Linked DNA regions of Homo sapiens: region 1 is linked to region 2. A link means that fine-mapping ties the variant in region 2 to the expression of a gene that starts in the linked region. Tissue or cell type: fibroblasts. Region 2 holds a variant in brackets; the other region holds the start of a gene. All regions are shown on one strand. Distances are between the middles of the regions.

Region 1 (8,175 bases), 41 kb before region 2:
GTTTCGTTCTATAAGATTATGCCTTTCTTCTTTATCTTCCACACTTTAATATTTTTTAATAAAAAATTTCAAACTATCAGTGCATCATCTAGGAATAACCTCATGGATTCAAGTTTAAGGCAAGACATCATTAAGCTCTTAAACTTACCTGAGGCACACTGTCAATTAAATCTAAGGCTCCATGAGCTAAATAGCTTAAATTCTCCAACATTATTTTCTCTGAAGCCTCCAGCTTTGGATCCTGGTATATAAACTCCTACCTACTGCGAGGTGAGCAGAGAATTACCATCACATAGACACCCTCCAGAATGGTTCCTTTCTTGTGTCCATGCCTTAAGCTCTATGAAATTACACAATTCTTCTACTGAAATAACCTGCAGCCAAGGGACAACTTCATTAGCTACAAAGCTGTTGTCACCTGTGTCCAGAGTGTCAATCAATACAGGCTCAAACAACAAGATGAAATTATGAGGACCCTGGAAAATGCCACTTGACCTCAAATAACAATTCTTAGGCAAGTAAACATCAATCAAATTCAGAACAGACCATGGGTGGCCAAACAGACCCGGGAGACGTCAAAAATATGTGTGCTAAAGAAACACAGAACTAAGGAAGTCTATTTACCTGATAGACCGCCTCACCCACGGGGCTATTTTCACTGCTGTAAAAGCGAAAACAAATAGAGGACAAGTCACAGTGCCAAGAATACAGGACTTCCTCTTGCAGATCCTCTTTTTTCCACCCTCACTGTAGCTCTGGGGAAATTCCTATTCAGTGGGAGAAGTTTAAGTCACAAAACGGCACCAGCCCATTCTCAAAGTGCTATTATACACCTCTGAGCAGTGAGGATGGGTAATGTCAGCAAAATATGCACTGTTTATTTTCTTGAAAATTAACTTGGGCTGGAAACGCCTTCCAGCTCCTTCCTCTCAGTGGATTTTCCATTTACTGTCTTCAACCACCTGGGCTTGTCTGTACCTCTTCCACAGCTCTACTGAGACCCTCCTGTTTGTCTGAACTATGTCCTCATGTTCCTTCTGCCACATGTGCTCAGGCCTCAGTTTTTCCATGAAACTTTCTCTAACTTAGCTGCCTCCTTTCCACTGTTCTCAAGCCCTTTCTGGAGTTACAAGGGCATTAGCAAGCACCAGCTTTTTCGCCGGTGTGTGTTTCTACTTTCTACCCATTGCGTAAACCCCTCAGGACCAGGAGCCATTCTTCTGCATCCTTTACACGGCAAGGGTAGCGCTTTATTTCTCAACAGCCCGCCCATAAAAGGAACGGAAGTAACAAAGGGAAATGTATTCCCCAAAGACAGTGAATTACACTTCAATCTACTATTTTAGAGACTTAAGAAATGGGCCGGGTGAGGTAGTTCACACCTGTAATCCCAGCATTTTGGGAGGCCAAGGCAGGTGGATCACTAGAGGTCAGAAGTTCGAAAACAGCCTGGCCAACATGGCAAAACTCTGTCTCTACTAAAAATGCAAAAATTACCTAAGCATGGTGGCACCCAACTGTAATCCCCGCTACTTGGGAGGTTGAGACACTAGAATTGCTTGAACTCAGGCAGGGGGTTGAGGTGGGGTGGGGAGGGTTAGAGGTTGCAGTGAGCCGAGATCGCACCACTGCACTCCAGCCTAGGCGACAGTGAGACTCTGTCTCAAAAAAAAAAAAAAAAAAGAAAGAAATTGATCCTACGTCTTAGATCAATCACCCAGTCACTTAATCTGTGAAAACATTACAAGATACTTTCTCAAATGTGAATAAATGCATCAATTATTCATGCCTTAAAGTAACAGGAAAGAGGGAGATGGGCCTCCCTCATGGTAGATTACAATTAAATGTTTCTTAGAGAGTTTGGTGCACATTTAGTTCCCAGAGCAAGGGCTGGTGGAGAAGAAAGCCAAGTGCAATATGGGTGTTACTCTATGCCAGGTAAAGCAAGTCACACGCCATCTAGATCCTGCTCCAACTGATAAAACCAAAACACTGGTGGAATTCCAGATACCAGCCTGCACTTCTCTCTGTAGGCATCTGGGTTAGTCCTAAATAGGAAGTCCTAAAAAGAGTCACTCTGAGAAGGCAGGGGGTGAGAGGGCAGATGAAGCAGCCAAGCACACATTAAGGCAAATCATGGCTTTCCTAAAGAGGACCCCAAGCTGGGCTTCAGACAGTCTTTGAACCAGCACCAGTGCACCAGGCCAAGGGGAGGGAGGCATCCTCTTTGGGAAGACTGGTAGGAGCTTGGAAGACCCCGTGGCTTCCACAAACTGTAGATTTCCCAGTGACCACTGCTCAGTCCAACAGCCAGTGACATCAGCTCCACTGTCGGGAAGTAGAAAACCAGTGAAGGTCCAACTAGCCTGGTCCCTGAAGCATGACTGGCCCTTCCAGAACATACACCTTTCCCCTATCACCTCCTCTCCCTGACCCCGAAGAGCTTCGGGCACACCACCAACTGACCACCTATCCACAGTGACCTGCAAACCAGAGCGGGGAGGGTATTTGCCTAGCTTGGCAGGGAGGGGCGAGATCCACTTCTGCCACCAGTCACCAGCTGGTCCCACCAGCACCTACCCAGCACCGGCGGTGGACGGTGAGCGGCGTCTGGGCCCAGAGCTGGGTGCCATCAGCAGTAAGAGGACCCCTGCGCTCGCGGGGTGCCCGCCTTACCCCGCGGGGAGGGGTCAGGCCTAGGGGCCACGGCCCGCTTCGCTCTCTGATTTTCACCTCCCCAGGGTCTCCCAGGGGCCTCGGGTGTCCTTCCCGGATCTTGCGCGAAGTCGCGGGGGCAGGGAGAGAAACGCGGGTACCCGCGCCCCTAGAAGTCAAATGTTTGGCAAATAGCATTTGGGAATTCGTTGGGGTTTTTTTGTTTGTTTTGGTTTTGTTTCTGAACCCCCGGGGGATATTTCTGGAAATCTCAACCTGAGTCACTAGAGAGAATCGCGCCTTTTTCTAAAAAGCCCAGGGGCCGTCCTCTCCGGGGAGGGGGACGCGGCGGGCCGCGAAGGGCGCTCGTTCGGGTGGGGGCCGGACGACCCCGCCACGCGCGATCGGGCCACTCTGGGACGCAGGAGCTGAACCCAACCGGAGACGCGGCCGGGACCAGCGCTGGGAGGCCGGACCCCGCCCCGGCCGGGCCCCCACGCCCTCCGCCGCGCCTCGATGCCCGCGACCCGACCCGCGCCCCCTGGCATCCCAGGAGGCCCCAGCCAAGGGCTCAGTGCCCGGGGCCCCCAGCAGGTGCTGGCGCCACCGGCCCCCCGCTGTCTCCCGCTGGTCCCCGCGCCCCGGCGTCCCCGCGCCGCACTCACCGCCGCCCGCGCCGCCTGTCGAGCCGGGAGGTCTGAGCTGGCCTCTCGGGCGCCCCGAGAAAAGGGCCGGGCGGCGGGGACGGGGGCGGGGGCTGGACCCGCCGGGGCGGAGCGCGGCCGGCTTGGGCTTCCGGCTTCTCCCGCCCCCGCGGCCCGCACCTGGGCCCCAGGCGAGACCACCGCCGGTTCCCCGCCTCACTCTGATCGCCCCCAGGCTCCATCCCACACCCGGCTCGCTCGCCACCCCAGAGCTTCCCAGGCTTACCCCCGAGACGCCTGGCGCGGACCTGGTGTCTCCCCCACTCTCCTATCCTGCCCCTGCCTCTCGGTGCCAGCCCCACCCGTCCGCCCCCGACAGCCTGGCCCTCCCTCCTGATTTGCCGCTCGCGGCTCTCCCCACTTTCCCCCCTCCCCGCGCCGCTCCACCACTTCCAGGCGGCGGGACCACCAACCTCGACCCCGGACCCGCGCTGGGGCGCTCCCGGCCCTCTGGAGGGCGGCCCTTCTCTTCCTGTAACTCTACAGACGCGTCCGGACAGACCAAGACACTCTCTGTGCCTTCGGGCATGTTACCCATCCTCTCTGAGCTCGGCTTCCTGTCTGCAAAATGGGCACAATAGCGGTCCTGTCTCCTAAGACCGACTGGGAGTGAACTGGGAAGATGGTAAAGTTTTTAGCACAGGATAGGTATTAGGTAAGGCTTATCAGCTGCCTGTCCGCTTTGTGCCCCCAGGGTGGTCCGTGCCGCCAGGTAGGCCTTTCTCAGCCATCACTGAAAGCAAGCTCTGGAAATCAGTAGCCCCATTTCACATCCGCCCCTAAATGGGTGCCATCTGCCCGTCTGCTTGGAGCCCCATCGGCCGGCTGCAGTGATAACAGCAGCAGCCTGGATCCAGCAGGCTCTCTGGGAAATCATTAGAGGGAATTAAGAAGCATGCCTGGCTTTCAGAGTACACAGAGTCAGGAGATGGGCAGAACCATGATGTGGCCATCCACAAACAAACGCCATTTGGACAGGGAGCTTCCGAGCCCCATGCTGGCAAAGACCTGGATCTTAGAACCCTCCGGTGCCCAAATCCCATGCCTTTACCCGAGGTCCTAAAGATAGTGAGGCCCAGATAGGGAGTGTGGCTTGTCCCGGGTCCCTCAGCAAAGTGTCCCCAGCCCCAAGTTCTTGCCACCTTGCGCCATGTCCACTGACGGGCCACCCTCAGCCGTGGACGAGTTACCAAGTTGGAAGGGATTTCAAAGTTCTCCCAAGCATAGGAGGTTCCCATGTAGATGTTATTAGTGTGGGCAACATTTTACTGCTTTTAAAATATGAAGGGGGCGGGTGCAGTGGCTCTTGCCTATAGTCTCAGGACTTTGGGAGGCCATGGCCAGAGGATCTCTTGAGCCCAGGAGTTCAAGGCCAGGCTGGACAACATAGTGAGACTCCATCTCTATAAAAATTTTTTTAATTAAAAGAATAATAATAAAGCGGTGGAGTGGTGGCATGTGCCAGCTACTCAGGAGGCTGAGGTGGGAGGATTCCTTGACCTCCGGAGGTTGAGGCTGTAGTGAGCTATAATCGAGCCACTGCACTGTAGCAAGCAAGCAACAAAGAAAGAAAGAGGGAAAGAGGGAAAAGAGAAAGAAAAAAAAAAGAAAGAAAAAGAAGAAAGAAAGAGAAAGAAAGAAAGGGAAAAGAAAGAGAAGGAAAGAAGGAAGGGAGGGAGGGAGGGAGAAGAGAAGAACAGGAAATTGGATTACACCCAACCTCTGCCATTCCTCCATTCTCAGGATGCAACCAAGGCTTGCAAAGGTACCAATTATTATACTGACATTAAGACAGAATATCACAGACCATTGCTAGGGAGACATAACACCTAGGGAAAATCTCTCAGAGATAACGTTCAAGAAACATCCCTGTATGAATGCTTTTCTTCCTTCCTTCCTTTCTGTCTCTCCCTCCCTCCCAACCTTTTCTCCTTCCTTCCTTCCTTCCTTCCTCCCTTCCTCCTTTCCTCCCTTCCTCGCTTCCTCCCTTCCTTCCTGTAAAAAGCAGTAGTAAGCCTGAATTTTCTTCTGTCCTTTACTGAATACTACCACATCTTCATTTGTTTTTCTTTCCCCAACTGCTGAGCAGCAACAGGAGCCAGCTTTGTGTTTTTATCCATCCTAAACACTTACCACGGCTGTGAGCTTGCAATTATTTATGGGGAGAGCTATAAGACTGTAACTCTTTTCTTTGATCCCCAAAAAACCACAGAGATTGAATTTCCAACCCAAGGCTTCCAACCAGGGGGTAAAAGTAAACTGGGCCACGTGATCATCTCAATAGACGGAAAAAGCATTTGAAGAAATCCAATAATGCTTTCATGATTAAAAAAATAATAATAAACTAGAAATAGAAGGGAACTTCCTCAACCTTAGGGCTTCTATGAAAATCCCAGAGCTAATGACACACTTAATGGTAAAAGACTGGAAGTTTTACCCCTAAGAACAGGAACAAGCCAAAGTGCCCACTCTGGCCACCTCTGTCCAACATTGTCCTGGAGGTTCTGGCCATTGCCATTAGGCAAGAAAAATAAAAGCATCCAGATTGAAAAGGATAAAGTGAAGCTATCTCTATTCACAGGTGATATGATCCTATATGTAAGAACCCTAAAGAATGTACTAAATACCTATTAGAGCTAATAAACCAGTTCAGCAAAGTTGTGGGATTTAAGATTAACATACAAAAATCAGTTGCTTTTTTTTTTTTTTTTTTTTCGAGACAGGGTCTCTGTCACCCAGGCTGCAGTACAGTGGCTCGATCACAGCTCACTGCAGCCTTGACCTCCTGAGCTCAGGCGATCCTCCCACCTCAGCCTCCTCAGTAGCTGGGACTACAGGCATGTACCACTGTGCCCAGCTAGTTTTTTTTTGTAATTTTTTGTAGAGATAGGGCTTTGCTATGTTGCCCAGACTGGTCTCAAACTCCTGGGCTCAAGCCATCCACCTGCCTGGGCCTCCCAAAGTGCTGGGATTACAGGTGTGAGGCACCACACCCAGCCAGTTGCATTTCTATATACTAGCAATGAGCAATCCAAAAATGAAATTAAGAAAATGGCTCCATTTACAATAGCCTCAAAAGGATAGAAGCTGGGTATGGTGGCACACACCTGTAGTCCCAGCTACTCAAGAGGCTGAGGCAGAAGGATCCCCTTGAGCATGAGAGTTTGAATCTAGCCTGGGCAACATAGCGAGACCCCATCTCTAAAAAAAAAAAAAAGAGAGAGAGAGAATGTAATACTTAGGAAAACGCTTAACTAAGGAAGTTCAAACAAGACCTATACACTGAAAACTACAAAACATTGCTGAAAGAAATTAAAGAAAACTAAATAAATGGAAAGACATTCATGGACCAGAAGATTTAATATAGTTAAAGTGGTATATCAGTCAGAAATCTTTCAAAGAAAGAGAGAGGAGATATATACATATATAGATGGTACCAGACTTAATGATGGTTCAATTATGATTTTTTGACTTTATGATGGTGATACACATTCAAAAGAAACCGTACTTCAAGTACCCTTACAACCATTCTGTTTTTAACTTTTAGTATAGTATTCAGTAAATTACATGAGATATTCAATACTTTGTGATAAAGTATTGAATTAAGTAAAGGAGACCGTCTCCTTTACCTGAAGTCAACTAAAATAAACCACATCTGCAAAATACTTTTACAGCAACATCTAGATTGGTGTTTAATTGAATAACTGGGTACTATAGGCTAGCCACGTTGATGTGTAAAAGTAATGATCACAAATGGCAATACTTCCCAAACTGATGTACGGGTCCAATGTAATCTCTGTTTTTGTTGTTGTTGTTTTGTGTTTTTGAGATAGAGTCTCGTTCTGTTGCCCAGGCTGGAGTGCAGTGGTACGATCTCGGCTCACCGCAAACTCTGCCTCCTGGTTTCAAGCGATTCTCCTGCCTCAGCCTCTCGAGTAGCTGGGACTACAGGTGTGCACCACCAAGCCTGGCTAATTTTTGTATTTTTAGTAGAGACAGAGTTTCATCGTGTTGGCCAGGCTGGTCTCGAACTCCTGGACTCAAGTGATCCACCTGCCTCGGCCTTCCAAATTGCTGGGCTTTCAAGTGTGAGCCACCGTGCCCGGCCCAGGTCCAATGTAATCTCTATCAAAATTCCAGCTGCCTTTTTTGGCAAAAATAGACAAGCTGATCCTAAAATTAATATGGAATTACAAGGGATTTCAAATAGCCAAAACAATCTTGAAAAATAACAAAGTTGGAGGATCCACTGTTTCTGTTTTTTACACTTTGTTTTTGAGACAGAGTCTTATTCTGTTGCCCATTCTGGGATGTAGTAGTGCCATCATAGCTCACTGCAGCCTCAAACTCCTGGGCTCAAGCGATCCCTCCCACCTCAGCCTCCAGAGTGGCTGGGACTACAGGTGCGCACCACCATGCCTAGCTAATTTTTAAATTTTTTGTATAGATGTGGTCTCACTATGTTGCCCAGGCTGGTATTGAACTCCTGGGCTCAAGTAGTCCTCCCACCTCCACCTCCCAAAGTGCTGGGATTACAGGTATGAGCCACTGCACCTGGCCCACACGTTCTGATTTTAAAACTTACTACAGAGATACAGTAATCAAAGCATGTGGTTCTGGCATAAGAATAGACATATAAATCAATGAAATAAAATTGGGAGTCTACATATAAACCATATATCTATGATCAATGAATGCCAAGACCATTCAATGGAGAAAGAGTCTTTTTTTTTTGAGACAGAGTCTCACTCCGTCACCCAGGTTGGAGCGCAGTGGCGTGATCTTGGCTCACTGCAACATTCACTTCCCAAGTTCA
Region 2 (8,175 bases):
TTTTCCAATAGTTCCAGCTAAACTCCCACGGTTGAATCTCACTGGTCCGGTGTGGGTCACGTGCCCATCCTCTGGTCAATCTCTATGGTTACAGCAATAGAATTCATGATAACAAGCCCCTCCCTGGAGTCTGAGACTGTCAGCCTCACTAGAATAGAAATGGAAATAGGTAGTTACTATCCTCAGAAGGAGCCCTAGATGCTGACATTCAAAAATAACAAATGCCTACCACAGTGGGGCATGTGAGAAGAATAGGTGAGTTCTATGACATCTTGCACAGCAAGGCTGCCGTGACAGTTGCACAGGTTGTGCACTGCACATCTCTACAGGGTCTCCATTTATATTCACTATCACCCTATGTTTACAGATTTATCATGATAAATTTCCAACAGACTGCAGTTAAACATCTTCAGGAAGGGAAGTGTGATCGACTGAAAATGAAAAACATGGTCGCAGTATTTTGCAACTCTTCCTGTCAAGAGGTAGAGTCTATTTCCTTACCCCTCAAATCTGGGTGGCCTCGAGACTTGCTTTGACCAATAGAATATGGTAGAAGTGACTCTACAAATTTTGAGGCTAAGACTTAAGAGGCTTAGTTTCCACTCTGACCCTCCTGGCGTGCTGCCTGAGACTGCCCGATAAGACTACCCCATAAGAAGGCAAACAGCCCCCAGGAGGGTGAGAGGTCACGTGAAGGAGACCCAAGGTGCCCCAACCAACCAGCTCTGGACTGGAGGACCCAGGAAGGTGAGACAAACTGCTGGGTGAACTGTGCTGTGCCAACTCATTGAAGCTGAGAACTCAATTTCCCAGAATTTCCTCCCCATGTGGTTCTGGTTAGAGATGACCAAAAGAGGAACATGAGTGAAATTTGGAGAGTGGAGACAAAGCAGTGGCCGTGACTCTCTGAAGGTCACTGTGGTCCGGTGTGATGGTGGGTGGTGTCTCCCGAGATCACCTCCCAAAAACCTTTTTTTTTTTTTTTGAGACAGGGTCTCGCTCTGTCACCCAGGCTGGAATGCAGTAGTGCGATCTCGGCTCACTGCAGCCTCTGCCTCCTAGGCTTAAGCAATCCTCCCACATCAGCCTCCTGAGTAGCTGGGACTACAGGCACGTACCACCATGCCAGGCTCATTTACGCATTTTTAGTGGAGACAGGGTTTCGCCATGTTGCCTAGGCTGGTCTCCAACTCCTGGGCTCAAGCAATCTGCCCATCTCCGCCTCCCAAAGTGCTGAGATTACAGGTGTGAGCCACTGTGCCTGGCTCCAGATAAATTACTTGCACCCAAATTTCTGTCTCAGCATCAGCCTCTGGGGGAACCAAGTCTAAGACAGGCTTCTTAAGAAACCCTGAGTTCCCCTAGGTTGTGTGCTGAAGGAATGCAGTGACAGAAATCAGAGCAGAAAGAGATCAACCTTCCCTTTTAATCTTTCATTTATTCATTCATTTTACAGTCAGTGAGTCCCTGCTGTGTGCCCGCGCTGGAGACAGAAAGAGCCCAGAACTTGGAGTCAGCCAGGCTAGTTCTAACTCCAGCCCTGAGACACAGACAAGTCCCCCTAAGCTCTTGGAGCCTCATCTGATCCTCACAATGGTCCTACGAGGCAGAAAACCTCATGACCCCAGTGCCCATGAGGAAATGGAAGCACAGAGAGGTTGGGTGACCTGCCTAAGGCCACACAGCTGAACAGTGGCAGAACCAGGATTTGAACCTGGGAGTCAATTCCAGATCCCATGCGCTTAGTAAATTTCTCAGGAGTTCCAGAGACTGGGCTGATTGATGAAAGTTCCAGAATTTAGGACTTGTTCCAATAAATGGTATGAATTAGTTCCCCTATGTTTGTGAGAAAGATCCCACTACTTTACTTTAAAAAAACAAAACGAACAAAAAAAAAAACTTCTTTTTATACAGTGAGTCAGAGTCTTGCTGGAGTGCAGTGGTACAATCTCAGCTCACTGCAACCTCTGCCTCCCAGGTTCAGGCAATTCTCCTGCCTCAGCCTCCCAAGCAGCTGGGACTACAGGCTCATACCACCATGCTCTGCTAATTTTTGTAATTTTTTTTTAAGACAGTCTTGCTCTGTTGCCCAGGCTGGAGTGCAGTGGTGCAATCTCAGCTCACTGCAACCTCTGCCTCCTGGGTTCAAGGGATTCTTCTGCCTCAGCCTCCTGACTAGCTGGGACTACAGGCAGGCATCACCATGCCTGGTTAATTTTTGTATTTGTAGAGACCAATTTCACCATATTGGCCAGGCTGGTCTCCAACTCCTGACCTCATGATCTGCTGGCCTCGGCCTCCCAAAGTGCTGGGATTACAGGCGTGAGCCACCGCGCCCAGCCTGTAATTTTTTTTTAGTAGAGACGGGGTTTTACCATGTTGGCCAGGCTGGTCTCGAACTCCCACCCTCAGGTGATCCGCCCACCTTGGCCTCCCAAAGTGCTAGGATTACAGGCGTGAGCCACCTTGCCCGGCCTTTTAAAACATTTCAAGCTCTACTAGGTCCACTATATTTTTATTTAATGTGCTACTGGTGAAAATTTATTTCTTCTTTTTTTTGTTTTTTTTTGAAATGGAGTCTCTGTCGCTCAGGATGGAGTGCAGTGGCACGATCTTGGCTCACTGCAGCCTCTACCTCCCGGGCTCAGGTGATCCTCCCACCGCAGCCTCCCAAGTGGCTGAGACTACAGGCACGCACCACCATGCCTGGCTAAACAAGCTTCTTCCAGTCTGATCCCATCCCCCTAGGAACCCGGGTGTGGACGGCCTCTCTTACCTTTGCTGCAGACGCGTCCCTCCTTCCTAGCCCCAGGGGCTGTGTCATGCACATGACCAAGCCTGGCCAGTGGCTACCCAGCATCTCCTGAGCCTCAGTGATTGCTCCAGTAATGGGCATGTGACCCAAGCCAAGCCAATGACAATCAACCCCAAGACCCTTGCTGGAGCTCCTTGAATAAGACGAATTCTTTACAAGGCTGGTGAGATGAAAACCCGGAGCTGCCCAGCACCATCTTTGCCAGCAGGTAGAGCAAGCCCACTGGAGAATGAAGCCAACACAGAGAACAGCCAGGCTTGGAGTTGGAGACAGATCCCTGACAGCATGGTCTGAGCTTCTGGATCCAGCCAGGCCTGAAGCTCTTGCCCTCCCCACTTCCCAGTGACACAATACATTCTGCAATGGCATAAACCAGTTCCAGTGGGATTCTGGTTTTTGCAGCATTCTGCTATTCATCCTGACTAATGTATTAGACTTAAAAAAATACAAGGCCTGGGAGTGGCGGCTCACGCCTGTAATCCCAGCATTTTGGAAGGCCGAGGTGGGCAGATCACCTGAGGTCAGCAGTTCGAGACCAGCCTGGCCGACATGGCAAAACCCCATCTCTACTAAAAATACAAAAATTAGCCAGGTGTGGTGGTGCACGCCTGTAGCCCCAGCTACTCTGGAGGCTGACGCAGGAGAATGGCTTGCATCCGGGAGGCAGAGGTTGCAGTGAGCCGAGATTGTGCCACTGTGCTCCAGCCTGGGTAACAGAGCAAGACTCAATATCAAAAAATAAATAAAAATACAAAAATTAGCCGGGCGTGGTACCACACATCTGTAGTCCCAGCTACTCGGGAGGCCGAGGCAGGAAAATCATTTGAACCCAGGAGGCGGAGGTTGCAGTGAGATTGC[G/A]TCACTGCACTCCAGCCTGAGCGACAGAGTGAGACTCTGTCAAAAAAAAAAAAAAAAAAAAAAAACAAGGCCTGTAATTCTCCATTGGCCCAAGACAAGCACAGTCCTGCAGAACACAAAGACACATTTGCTCCTTGAAAGATTCACAGGAAGGGAAAAATATTTCCCATTCTGTGGTAATGAATCAATACCCAAATAAGACCTGGTTCGTTTCTCAAGCAGGTAATCCTGCCCAACAGCCATGACTCATCCCAGCCCCAACCAGCCCTGAGGTTGGTGTGGCCCCAGATAACTCGCTAAACTTGGGGCCGCCCCAGATTTTCCATGTTTGCGTGTCTCCTCTCCTTTCTCTTCCAGCTAAGAGTCCTGGGAACTCTTTCTAGAGTTCCAAGTAAACGCTTTGCAGAACGCCCAACCCAGATCAACACCCAGTAGATGCTCTCAGAGCACAAGGAGACATCCGGAGATCTTGCTTTTACCGAAAGTATCCAATGAAAGGGAAAAAACAAAGTTGGTCTTGACCCTTTCTATTTTTTTATTTTTTTGTTTCTTTTAGTCAAGATCTTGCTCTGTTGCCCGGGCTGGAGTGCAGTGGCACGATCATAGCTCACTTCAGCCTCAAACTCCTAGGGTCAAGGGATCTTCCCGCCTTAGCCTCCAAGTAGCTGGGATTACAGGTGTGTGCCACCACGGCTGGCTAATATTTTTTCTTTTCTTTTTTTTTTTGAAACTGAGTCTTGCTCTGTCATCCAGGCTGGAGTACAGTGGCGTGTTCTCAGCTCACTGCAACCTCCATCTCCCGGGTTCCAGTGATCCTCCTGCCTCAGCATTCCTAGTAGCTGGGATTTCAGGCGCACACCACCATGCCCAGCTAATTTTTGTATTTTAGTAGAGATGGAGTTTCGCCATATTGGCCAGGCTGGTCTCGAACTCCTGACCTCAAGTGATCTGCCCGCCTTGGCCTCCCAAAGTGCTGGGATTATAGGCGTGAGCCATTGCTCCCAGCCTATTTTAGTTTTTTTAGAGACTGGCATCTCACTATGTTGCCCAGGCTGGCCTTGAACTCCTGGCCTCAAGTAATCCTCCCGCCTCGCCCTTCCGAAGTGCTGGGATTACAGGCATAAGCCACGGCACTCAGGCTTGCCCCCTCTTACCAAGTGCTGGGATGGCACCCAGGACCTCAGCAGCAAAGGGAGCCTAACAGGCATCAGATGAGGAAGGCTCAGAAGGCTGAGCGCAGGGAAGGAGCCTCTGTCCGCAGGACACCGAGGACTTTGGGGAAGGCACTCAGCCGGGAAGTCAGACATGACCTCATCCTAGTTGAGGTTCCGTAGAAGCAGAGCCTGTGATGGAGATGTGGGTGCATGTGGTTTTCTAGAAGTGAGGGTTCTCAGAAGAGGGGAGTAAGGAGACAAGGTGCAGGAGGAAGAACAGCAGACAGGTCCCAGCTGGAGGCCTGATCCCAAGGCAGGCCTGAAGTAAGAGTTTTCTGAGTCAGTCCCACCAGGAGGCAAGGGGGCCCTGCTGAGGACCTGTCCTCGGCCAGTCGGTCCTTCTGGGGTCCCTCTGGGCTGCCAAGAAGGGTGGGTGAGGGGTGGGAAACACAGCTGTGAGCAGTCAGCGGCCACACTCGAAGCAGCCGGCTCCTTCCTTCCTCTTCTTGGCTGCACACCTGCTTTTGGGGAAGGAGCTCATGGACTGGTTGCAGCTGGGGTGGGAAGAATTAAACAGACACTGCTGAGCTCAGTGCTTGAGGGCCCAGGGCTTCGGAGGCAGAGGCAGCCAGTTTCGAATCATGATTCTGGGTTGACTCAAGTCTCCAGCGTGGAGCTCCAGGGGCGCGCAGCTCATGGAGTGCGGTACGGATTAACAAGGCCATGTGGTAGGCGCTCTTCCCCCCACAGCCTGGCGCATGGCAAGTGCTCAACAAATCATGGCTCTGCAAACATCTCCAAGTGTCACAGGCCTGGCTGCTACGGTGGGAGATTTAACATCAGTCGCCAGGTGTTGGGGAGGGAAGAGAAGGAGTTCGGGTGCCTTCCTGGACTCATTCCAGCACCCACAGGTGCTCAGCGCACTTCTATCTGGGTCAGGTTTTGCTCCTTCTCATCAAGTGCAAGGCGGGCACACAGGACCCCGGAAGAACGGAGGTCATGGGAGTCCAGATAGGAACCAGACCCCTGGCGTTGGGGGGGCTCCAAACCTCTGTGTTTGGGAGTCCTGGCTTCCCCAACTTCCCCTCCTAGCCTCAGCCCCTATGGATGGAAAAGTACCCCCAGCTGGCATGACTGATCGATTGGTTTGGGGCACAAAGCTGGGTCCTCTCTGAGGAGCAACTTGGCAGGAGGTGCCCGCAGTCTGGCCTTGGCCACAGTGCTACTTTGAAACTGCTTTAAACTCGCCAATGATGTCCTAAAGCCCTGATGACAAATCCCAGCCTCCCGCAGGCCCTGCTCTGGCGGGGACACCTCTTGGGCCTCATTGCAAACCACACAACCCTCCTCCTGTGCCCCGCCTGCTCCAGGCACACAGGAGTCCCTGTTGCTCCACAGCTTCAGGTCTCTCTGGCGGCAGTGCCTTCCCCTACCTGCCCCTGGCCAACTTTTTTTTTTTTTTTTTTTTGGTGGTGAGACAGGGTCTCATTCTGTCACCTAGGCTGGAGTGCAGTGGTGAGATCAAAGCTCACTGCAGCCTCAAACTCCTGGGCTCAAACAATCCTCCCACCTCAGCTTCCTAGATAGCTGGGACTACAGGCACCCACCACCACGTCCAGATAATGTTTTTATTTTATTTTTTTTCTAGAGACAGGGGTCGGGGTGGTCTCACTATGTTGGCCAGGCTGGTCTTGAACTCCTGGCCTCAAAATGATCCTCCCGCCTCAGCCTCCCAAAGTGCTAAGATCACAGGCATGGGCCACGGTGCCCGGCCTGCCATTACCTTTGATGCATGGACAAGAGGTAGCCTCCCATGCATAGCAGTAGCCACGATAACAGCAGTCATTTCTGTTTGCACCCAACTCATCTAAGCACTGTCTGCTTATTTTTGATATTATTTTCCCTGTTTACATTTGCAGAAACCGAGGCTTAACAAGGTTAAAGTCACCTGCCCATAGCGTGTGGTGGACTTGGGATTTGGACTCAGGGCTGCAGAAAATAAATAACCAGGTCGCCATGGGGTAAGTGCACTGCAGGAGAAGCTGCTTACAAGTGAGCTATCGGTGTCCTGTGGCTGCAATTATCACATCACCACAAACTGAGGCGCTTAAAACAGCAATGTATTCTCTGTTCTAGAGTCTAAAAGCTTGAAATCAAAATGTCATCAGGACCACCTCCCCCTGGAGGATCTAGGGAGGGTCCTCTCTTGCTTCTTTCAGCTTCTGGTGGCTCCAGGCATCCCGGGGCTGGGGGCTGCAACACTCTGCACATGGCTTTTTGTTGTTGTTGTTGAGACAGGGTCTCACTCTGTTGCCCAGGCTGGAGTGCAGTGGCGTGAACATAGCTCACTACAGCCACAACCTCCCGAGCTTAGGTGATCCTCAGCCTTCTAAGTAGCCAGGACTACAGGCACATGCCACACAGCTGGCTAAGTTTTTCATATTTTTGGTAGAGACAGGGTTTCACTACGTTGCCCAGTCTGGTCGCGAATTCCTGGGCTCAAAGGATTCACCCTCCTCAACCTCCCAAAGTGCTGGGATTACAGGCGTGAGCCATGGTGCCCAGTCACCACACGGACGCCTTCTCTCCGGTGTCTGTGGCTTCAAGCTCCATGTCTTGCTTACACAGACACCCGTCATTGGGTTTAGAACCCACCCTAAATCCAGGATGATCTCATCTCGAGATTCTTAACTTGATGACATCTGCAAAGACCCTATTTTCTTTTCTTTTCTTTTTTTTTTTTTTTGAGACGGAGTCTTGCTCTGTCTACAGGCTGGAGTGCAACAGCACAATCTCAGCTCACTGCAATCTCTGCCTCCCTGCAATCTCTGCCTCCCTGCTTCAAGCTATTCTCCTGCCTCAGCCTCCTGAGTAGCTGGGATTACAGGTGTGCGCCACCACGCCCGGCTAATTTTTTTGTCTTTTTAGTAGAGACGGGGTTTCACCGTGTTAACCAGGATGGTCTTGATCTCCTGACCTCGTGATCCACCCGCCTCGGCCTCCCAAAGTGCTGGGATTACAGGCGTGAGCCACTGCGCCCGGCCTCGCAAAGAACCTATTTTCAAATCAGGTCACCTTCACAAGTGCTGGGAGTTACGTCGTGGACGTGTCTTTCGGGGAGGGGTCATTATCAAGTAACTACAGCTGCCGTGGGGAACAGGATTAGGCAATCCGCTGGCCCCTCCCCACATGGACTGAGAAAGGTGAGGACGACTGGCTCAACCCTGGAGAGAAGGTGAAGGAGGCACCGAGATGACAGAGACAGGGAGAGGGACAGAGACAGGGAGAGGGACAGAGAGGGCTACTATGCTCCACTGTCTGCTGGAAACCCTGTTGACAAAGGAGGAA

The links. PIP is the estimated chance that this variant, and not a neighbour inherited with it, causes the effect.
Region 1: LITAF starts here. The variant in region 2 is fine-mapped to the expression of LITAF in fibroblasts (GTEx, PIP above 0.99).

Annotation. Positions count from the first base shown.
Region 1 is chr16:11,583,566-11,591,740 of GRCh38, forward strand. LITAF (lipopolysaccharide induced TNF factor) reads right to left here and starts at 3,354. Exons shown (of 4, transcript NM_001136472.2): 1 at 3,321-3,354. RefSeq lists an enhancer at 2,108-2,217 and silencers at 3,118-3,197, 3,228-3,707.
Region 2 is chr16:11,624,296-11,632,470 of GRCh38, forward strand. It overlaps a transcript of LITAF not described here. Among named protein-coding and RNA genes, the nearest start is that of SNN, 40 kb to the right of the region's middle. RefSeq lists an enhancer at 2,789-3,323. The variant G/A (reference allele first, on the strand shown) is at 3,674.